Linked DNA regions of Homo sapiens: region 1 is linked to region 2. Evidence: fine-mapped expression QTL. A gene starts in region 2. The other region holds a variant in brackets. All regions are shown on one strand. Distances are between the middles of the regions. Region 1 overlaps PAQR7 (progestin and adipoQ receptor family member 7). Region 2 holds the start of EXTL1 (exostosin like glycosyltransferase 1).

What was found. PIP is the estimated chance that this variant, and not a neighbour inherited with it, causes the effect.
Region 1: its variant is the best candidate, but not a certain one, in a credible set for the expression of EXTL1 in cerebellar hemisphere (GTEx, PIP 0.90).

The regions. Positions count from the first base shown.
Region 1 is chr1:25,869,638-25,874,020 of GRCh38, forward strand. It overlaps PAQR7 (progestin and adipoQ receptor family member 7), which reads right to left. Exons shown (of 3, transcript NM_178422.6): 2 at 972-1,057. Among named protein-coding and RNA genes, the nearest start is that of PAQR7, 3.9 kb to the right of the region's middle. RefSeq lists enhancers at 79-580, 3,111-3,200. The variant G/A (reference allele first, on the strand shown) is at 1,714.
Region 2 is chr1:26,019,669-26,024,047 of GRCh38, forward strand. EXTL1 (exostosin like glycosyltransferase 1) reads left to right here and starts at 2,107. Exons shown (of 11, transcript NM_004455.3): 1 at 2,107-3,757. The coding sequence starts at 2,979.

The sequences.
Region 1 (4,383 bases), 150 kb before region 2:
GGAGGTGGAGCCAGGACTGGGCTGTAGATGCTTGCAGACACTACTGCTGCCCTGCTCCAGGCACACTTGTCTGCATCCTACAGAACAACTTTGCAAAATCCTGGTCTAAAGCAGGCAACCAGGCTCTTTCTTATAAATTACTTTCTTAGGCTTCTAGCAATTCAGTCTCCCTCAGTTGCTGGCTACCTGCTTGCACCTGATCTTCTCCAGGGAGGCCCTGGCTCAAGCCACCTCCTTAGGTGAGTGACAGCGCTCGCTTATACCTCCCTCCCCCAGATATAATGGGCCCTATGGACAAAACCTGAGGCACCATGCTAGGATGACAGAGACCCCGCTGCCCTATTTTCTTTAGACCTCAGCTAGAGGCCTCACTCCACCTAAGTAGGTCTGTTTTCAGAATTAGTTTCCACCTCCTGACTCCATGGAAAGGGACTCTGATCCAGGGGAAAGGAAAAAGCAGGGGCAGGGGTCAAGCCTGAGCCAGCAGGATGAGGATGGATATCCGGAGGGCACCATCAGGGCATCCTCTGAGTGGTCAGCCTCTGAGTCGTGTGCCCACCAGGCTGCTGGGCCCTGTCTATTCAGGCAGCTCAGCCCAGCCCACCTCCATGGGCCCCTCCAAGTCTGGCAAATTGCACTGGGTACCTGGGGGTTTCTCTCAAGCCTGGGGGCTGGTGACCTCTACTATGGGACTGGGCAAATTCACCAGATGCTGAGCACTTCCACAGATGAGGGGCACTAGGGGCGGGGCTTCCAGGGACTGGGGGTGTCTTGTGTGATGTCACCAGAGGGTGGGGCTAAAGACAACCTCCCACACCTCTCCTCCCCAACTTCACCACTCCCATAGTGGTGAAATCCATGCTAAACTGTGTGCCTTCCTAGCCAGGCCTCTGCTGCAGCAAGCAGCTCACCATTCACCTCTGCATGAGACTTACGGGGAAACCGAGGGCCAGCTGAAAAGTTTGACTTACCTAAGATCACACAGCAGGGCAAAGGCAAAGCCAGGTGACTAGGGCCTGGTTGATGGTGTCAGGCAAACTTCAGTGGTTCCTGTCCACTACTCAGTGGGAATCAGAATGGAAGAAGGTTAGGAATAAAGGAAAAAGCAGACGGTATAAAAGTGCACAGAGCAGATGGACTTCAGATTCAGACAAACCAGGTTTGACTCCTGATTGCATAACATGCTAGCTATGTGACCTTAGACAAGTGACTTACCTTCTCTGATCCTTAGCTCCCTCATGGGAATGACAATATTATCTACCTCATAGGTTGCTGTAAAGATTAAATTTATTAGAACAAAGTTTTAGCTTCATTTAGGGACTCAACAAATATTGCAATTGTTATTAATAATAATAGTAGTAGTCTTTGAAATATCCCCAGCCTGAGAGATTTGCTTCGAGTTTTCTAAAAAAACCATCCTCTTTTAGCCCTCAATAGCTAGTTCCATTAGATTTGGGGGCCTCAGGAAGTTCACTGTGTGCTTAAACATTTACCTTATCCCTAGGGGTGTAGACCAGGGAAATCTGGCTAGAGTTTGGACTTCCAAGGACACTGACCTTACTTAATCATTAAATTGTTCTTAGCAAAGACCATTCAGAGTAACTGTTTTGAATTCACAGAGCCCTGTAAATTGGTGCTTACCCACAGGCCCAAGAGATGTGGCTAAGCAGTGACAGTCCCAGGGGAAGGGGCCTCAACTCCAGCAGCTCAGAA[G/A]CCCTGGAGAGCACGAGGGCACAAGAGGGTGAACCAAATTAGCAGGTGATCCAAATGGCATATGGTCTGGCCTGGACATGTCTTGCAGAAGGTTTGGGAGTCTTCTGGGTTGGCTGAACCTCTGAAGTGCGATCTCCAGGGCTCCAGTGGGAGTGCCTCTGTCAGCCTGAGCCGCTCCTTCCTCCCTTCCCCTCCCCTCCACTTCCTCACCCCTCCCAATTCATATTCCTCAACTCAAGGTCAGCCCTCCTCACCTCTCTCCTTAACGAAGGCTTGCAAGCCCCAGCCTGCTCTCCAAGGATACACACTGTCAAAGGTTCCCATAACACCCGTGGGGCAAAACAGACCAGGCTGCAGGGAGGTGGTGGAAAATGGGCTTATGGAGAGGGAGAGCCCTGGGTTACCCCCATCTCACAGATTTCACTCAGTGCTTATACTATATGCCAGCCTCAACGCTACCCAGGCATTCTGTGTGCTGGGGCACACAGAAAATGAAGCAGACAGGCTCCCTGCCCCAACGGGCTCACCCACACAAATGCCCACAGGGCCTAGGAAGATCCAGCCTGGAGGGAAGCCAGCCAGGTAGTGAGCCTGGAGAACTGGAGAAGACTGCTGCCCTGGTGGTGGACATCCTCCACTAATCTCTGCAGGCTCTCCGGCAGGCTGTTTCAAGAGACGCCACAGGCCTCATTTTTATGTGAGGATGAAATTTCGGGTCTGGAATTCACCTGCTGTGTGACTCTGCAACAGTCCCTCAACCTCTCTGAGCTTGTTTCCTTTTGGAATCAGAGGATTAAAATAGCTGCCTCTTGGGCTCTTGTGGAAGCAAAACAAAGCCATGGATGCCAGGTGTTGGCTCTGGCACAGTGCTGGCTCTGCCGTTTCTGTGGGATTCTCGTCCTGACTCAGCCACTCAATCCCTGTGTGACCTTGGACAAGTCCCCTCCCCTCTTGGCCCTGTTTCTCCAAATGTCAAAGGAGAGAGTAAATTCACCAGTGACTTCCAAGGGCCCTTAGGCCCTGGGACAGTCCAAGAATATTTACTTTAGGCCTCCTATGTGCCAGGCGCTGCAGCTTCCTCAGTGACAGAGCCATTTAAACCACTGCCCTCGCAGAACTAACAGCCCAGGGAATTCATACCAATGGTAACACCACAGGATTTTTTTTTTTTTTTTTTTTTTTTGAGACAGGGTCATGCTCTGTCCCCCAGGCTGGAGTGCAGTGGTGCAAACACAGCTCACTGCAGCCTTGACCTCCCAGTCTCCGGTGATCCTTCTTCAGCCTCTTGAGTAGTTGGGAATCACAGGCGCACGCTACCATGCCTATTTTTTTAAATTATGTGTAGAGACGAGGTCTTGCTATGTTGCCCAGGCTGGTCTCGAACTCCTGGTCTCAAGTCATCCTCCCACCTTGGCCTCCCAAAGTGTTGAGATTATAGGAGTGAGCCACAGTGCTCAGCCAACACCTCAATATATTAATACCCTGCCCTCCTGGAGCTTACAGCTCAGCTAAATAACACCTATTATAAGCATTATTTGGGTACAATTCCACTTCCTCTTTTGCCTCCTTCTTGGCATGCAAAATATTCGTTGTTGCCTTTCTGGGCCCTGATTGTTCAGCACATTCTCTTAAAGACAACTTTTTCTCAGCATGGAAGGGAAAGTCTAACCCCATTAGATACAAATAATAAGGCCAGACCAATGTTAATACTGGGGCTATTGGAGGAAAACCCTCTTGAAGGGTCTTTAGTGAGGATGACCCAATATGGCACCTGAAATATCATTAAGGAGATTAGGTGCTACCACTCATAATATATAGTGGCTGGGTGTTTACCAAGAACTTTCACACACATTTTACCTCTCCCTCACAACTCTCTGGATCCACAGCCAACCTGGGAGCCCAGCCCTGGAGGCGGGAGGGCAGAGCACATCTATCTGACTCCAAAACCAGCGCTCTTGCCCTTTGTCCACCGTGGGTAACTCCCAGGCACCCAGTGGTGACCACAGATTATACAGGCAAAGTTTTCATCCCTGGCTGGCCTCCCAGTCTCTTAGCAACTGGGTCACCTCCCTCAATGCAGGCTAACTCCCCAACTTGGTCCAAAGTGTTTAAAGAAAAAGTCCCTACATGTCTTCCAAAACTGAACAGAAACTGTTTTTTTTTTTTGTAACTTTGGCACTTGGGACCTCCATGTATTTGTACTGGAAAATGTGATCAGAATGAAATAAGTAACTATTTCTTTTCTTGAGATAGGGTATCACTCTGTCCCCAGGTTGAAGTGCAGTGCAGCCATCACTGCAGCCTCAACTGCCCAGGCTCAAGCCATCCTCCCACCTCAGCCTCCTGAGTAGCCCTGACCACAGGCACACAACACCACGCCTGGCTAATTTTTTTATTATGTGTAGAGACAAGGTCTCACTATGTTGCCCAGGCTGGTCTTGAATTCCTGGGCTTGAGCAATCCTCCTGCGTTGGCCTCTCAAAGTGCTGGGGTTACAATCATGAGCCACTGTGCCCAGCCTAATTCTTTTCTTTTCTTTTTTTATTTTTTGAGACAAAGTTTCACTCTTGTTGCCCAGGCTGAAGTACAATGGCAAGATCTCGGCTCACTGCAACCTCCGCCTCCCGGCTTCAAGCGATTCTCCTGCCTCAGTCTCCTGAGTAACTGGGA
Region 2 (4,379 bases):
GATATTTATTCATTTTGTTTCTTGCCTATTTCCCCTCCCTGGAGGGTAAGTTCCAGGAGGGCAAGATTTTTTCTGCTTTGCTCACTGCCCTTAAGACCTGCCTGGCCCCACAATAGGGGTTCAGTAAATAGCTGTTGAATGAATGAGAGACTTGTGGGGTGACAGACCAGTCAAAAAGCTGTCCCTGCCTCCAGTCCTGCCATTTCCTGTCTGATCCCACACAGACAGCCACAGCGATTTTTCTAAAAACCACATTGCTGTCTTTCAGGTCTTAGGGTAGGTATCACTTCCTCGGAAGCCTTCTCTGGCCCCCTGGGCTAGGCAGCCCCTCTGTGTACTCTCAGGGTCCCCTCCCCTCATTCTGTAATTGCCTGCAATTGCCTAGTTCTATAATTGTCTTCTCCAGGACAGCGAGCTCTGGAGGGTGGGGACGCGTCTGTCTCCCTCCCTGTTGGGAGCTGGAATGGTGCAGCGGATATAGGAGCACACTACCTGGGTCCAAGTCCTGGCTAAGCCGTGAGAATTCAGGCAAATTACTTAAGCTCCCTCGGCCTCAGTTTTCCCAACTGTAAAATGTGGATCATCACAGTTTCTCCCTCCTAGGGTTGGGGAAAGGATGAAACAAGCTGATACAAAAGAGGGATGCTTGGCACGCTGTAAGTGCAATACGAGTGTCAGCTATGATTACTCTTACTCAGGGTTGTGTTCCTGGCCTAGCTCAGAACCTGGCCCATATTCAACACTCATAAGTGTTTGTTAGATGAATGGATGACTGTGTATGGGGATAGAGGGATGAAGGAATGACATGAGGACCTAGACGGGGGCTCTAACCCAGCCTGCGGAGCATTGGAGAAGCTTCTTGTGGGGAGGGAGCTTTCAGCTGACTCCTGCAGGATGAGGAGTTGGCTGGGCACAGTGAAAGGGGGGGCGTGCGAAGCAGCCAGTGGCCTTTGTGGATGCCTCTCAGTGTGGGAGGACTGAGTTATGCAGGAACTGCAGTTCATCACCGAGTGGCTGAGCCATTAGTGCCAAGAGGCAAGTGTCCCCTTTGTGGGCCATTTTTAGGACTCTCACACTGGCTGCTCACTGAGGGCAAAACATCCCACGGTGGCTCCCTGGTCTGATCAGCAGCCCTCCAAGATCAAGGGGAGGCACGCAGGGGAAAGGAGGCCACCACTTGTTGAGGGACCTCAGGGGACAGGCCTGCGTCAACCTGGCAACCCATTCCTGGCTGACATTATGCCCATCCCAGAGATAAGGGGACAGAGGCCCAACACCCCCGAGGCAGTCAGGGGAAGAGGCAGAACCCACTCAAGTCTGTCCACTCCCTGTGCCTTCCCTCATCAGCCCAGAACTCCTCATGGCCAGAGTGTGTCTCCCCCGTCACCCCAGAGATTCCTCAGTGGCTGACATCACCCACTCCTGACTCCCCTCACAGGGCACTGACCGGGGAAATCCCTCCATGGGGCCTGGACTATGGAAGAGTCAAGTGCAGGAAGAACTTTCCATAAGGACTGGAGCAAAAGGCTGGGAATTGGAGGAGATTGGGGGTGGGGCTGCTGAAGGAGGAGAGACCAATCCTGGGGACAGTTGGGGGCACCTTACCCAATTCCTCCACCCCCGCCCCTTAACTCCTCACTTGTCTCACCTGTTGACCTTCTCATGTGCCGATTCAGAGATTCCTCACACTCAGGCTCTGACCTCCACTGACTCTGATGGCCCACAGCAGGTGCAGGGTCTAGTTTTTCTCCAGCCACAGGGCCCACAGCTGGGGTGACCAACGACCAGGAGCTCAGGATTGAAATCCCCACCCTGCCACTTCTTAGCTGGGTCACCTTAGGAAGAGTTCATCCCCTCTCTGAGCTTTCCTCATCTGTAAGAAATGACAGGTAAATCTCTGCCTTGGAGGGTGGCTGGAGGACTGAGAGACAGAGGCTGTGATAACTCATGGCCAGCTGTGAGTTGCAGTACTTGCTGGTTGGATTAGCAATTGAGGAAACTGGTTTGGAAGGGGTTAAATGGAGACCCTGCCTCCCAGCCAGGAGCGAATCAGGGCTGGGAGGGGAGGAGCCAGGCTGCTGCTAAGGAAAGAGATCAGGATGGGCCAGTTGCCGACTGGAGAGGGATGGGAGGAGATACCATAGGGTTTGGGGGGCTTGGCACAGCGGCCCTGGCCTCTGCACTGTGATAGCTCCAAGCCAGATGGTGCAAGGCAGCTGCTGGGCTGCGGGGAAGAGGGGCTGCACTTCCTGAGCTGGTGCAGCGGCAGAGTGGATAAGGATCAGGACCCCGAGCCCTCCTGGCCCTCCAAGGCAGGGGGACACCGGCTGCACCCAGGCTGTGACCTCAGCTGACGCCGATGATCCACATGGGATGCAGGGTCTAATTTTAGCTCCAGCCACAGGGGCCACAGCCCAGAAGCGTCTGCCAGCGGGCACAGGGGCAGCCAGGGCTGCTCAGGCAAGGGGAGGAGTGGGAAGACCAGCCCAGCTCCCTCCAGCCTGTCCCTGGCCAAGCCGCCTCCTGTGGGAGCTCTGACTGGTCCCCATGGCCTGGCAGACAGCCCTCCTCTCAGTTGAGGGCAAGGTCAAGGGGTGCAGCCAGGAGGGCAGGGGGACACGGCCCTGCATTCTGGACAGGGGTTGCGTCAGCCAGAGCAGTGCCCAGGGGCAGGGGTCCCTGCTGGGAGGGAAAAGGCTGGCTTGGTTGTCCAAAGGCCGAGAAGGCAGAGTCCTGAGAGCAGGGGGGCCAGGCCAGCAAGCTGGGTCCCACCTGGCCTCCTCCTGCCTGGCTGGTGACTCACTATCTGACCTTAGACAGGCGGCCTGGTCTCGATGGGCCTCAGTCTTCCCATCTGTACAATGACAGCACAGGACTAGCAGGTCGGTCCCAGCTCTGGTCTCCCGCCCCAGGCCCTGCTCTTCCTGCTTGCTGGCAGAGGCCTCCCAGCTTCCCTAGCCCTGACTGTGGGTGGCCACATGCAGTCGTGGAGGAGAAGAAAGTCCCTGTGGCTGGCACTGTCAGCCTCCTGGCTCCTGCTTGTCCTGCTGGGAGGCTTCTCCCTTCTCCGCCTGGCATTGCCTCCCAGACCTCGGCCCGGGGCTTCCCAAGGCTGGCCCCGCTGGCTGGATGCAGAGCTCCTGCAGAGCTTCTCCCAGCCTGGAGAGCTCCCAGAAGATGCCGTTTCACCTCCTCAAGCCCCTCATGGTGGCAGCTGCAACTGGGAATCTTGCTTTGATACCTCAAAGTGCAGGGGCGATGGCCTTAAGGTATTCGTGTACCCAGCGGTTGGAACCATCTCTGAGACTCATCGCAGGATCCTGGCTTCCATTGAGGGCTCTCGCTTCTACACATTCAGCCCTGCTGGGGCCTGCCTCCTCCTCCTCCTCAGCCTGGACGCCCAGACTGGAGAGTGCAGCTCAATGCCTCTGCAATGGAACAGGGGCAGGAACCATCTGGTCCTCCGTCTCCACCCGGCTCCCTGCCCCAGGACCTTCCAGCTGGGACAGGCTATGGTGGCTGAGGCCAGCCCCACGGTGGACTCCTTCCGGCCCGGCTTTGATGTGGCCCTCCCTTTTCTCCCTGAAGCCCACCCGTTGCGAGGTGGGGCTCCTGGCCAGCTGCGGCAACACAGCCCCCAGCCCGGGGTAGCCCTGCTAGCCCTGGAAGAGGAGAGGGGTGGGTGGCGCACAGCAGACACTGGCTCCTCTGCCTGCCCCTGGGATGGGCGCTGTGAGCAAGACCCTGGACCTGGGCAGTAAGTGAACCTTTTGCCTTGGGGGCTGGATGGGAGGGGGCTGGAATAGACGCAAGCCCAAAAACGAGGGTAGAAGGCAGGACTGAGATGGGAGAACCAGGTAGTCCTGGTAGACTTAGGCCTCAGCTGCAGCAGCAGGAGGGAGCCAGGTTAGATGGCAGAGAGCACTTCCATTAAGATGGGGACTTGAAGCAAGGGTTGTCTAAGGTAGGTTTTGGAATTCTCCCCTGGGGATCTTTCAAAACATAAAACACGACTCATTCCAAACCTCCTACCCTAATATTTTTTTTCCCCACATACAGTTGTATAGTGCTTACTCTGTGCTAAGCACTTATATAAATAATGATTATAATAAAATATGCTAGTTGTTAGCATTTAAGTGTTTGTGTACCAGGCACGAAAGCTCAGACAGGTTAAGTAATTTTTCTCAGGCCACCCAGCCGGAAAGAGCCAGTATTTTGATCCAGAATTGCCTATCTCCAAAGCCTTCAGTATGAGAATTCTGAGTTTTAAGTAAAAGTTTATGATCAACCTCATCAAATGCCTCAGAAGGGCCTCACAGTCACAGCTGGAAGCTGCTCCCGTGTCTAATTTTGGGGATTAACCTCTCAAAGAAACAGCC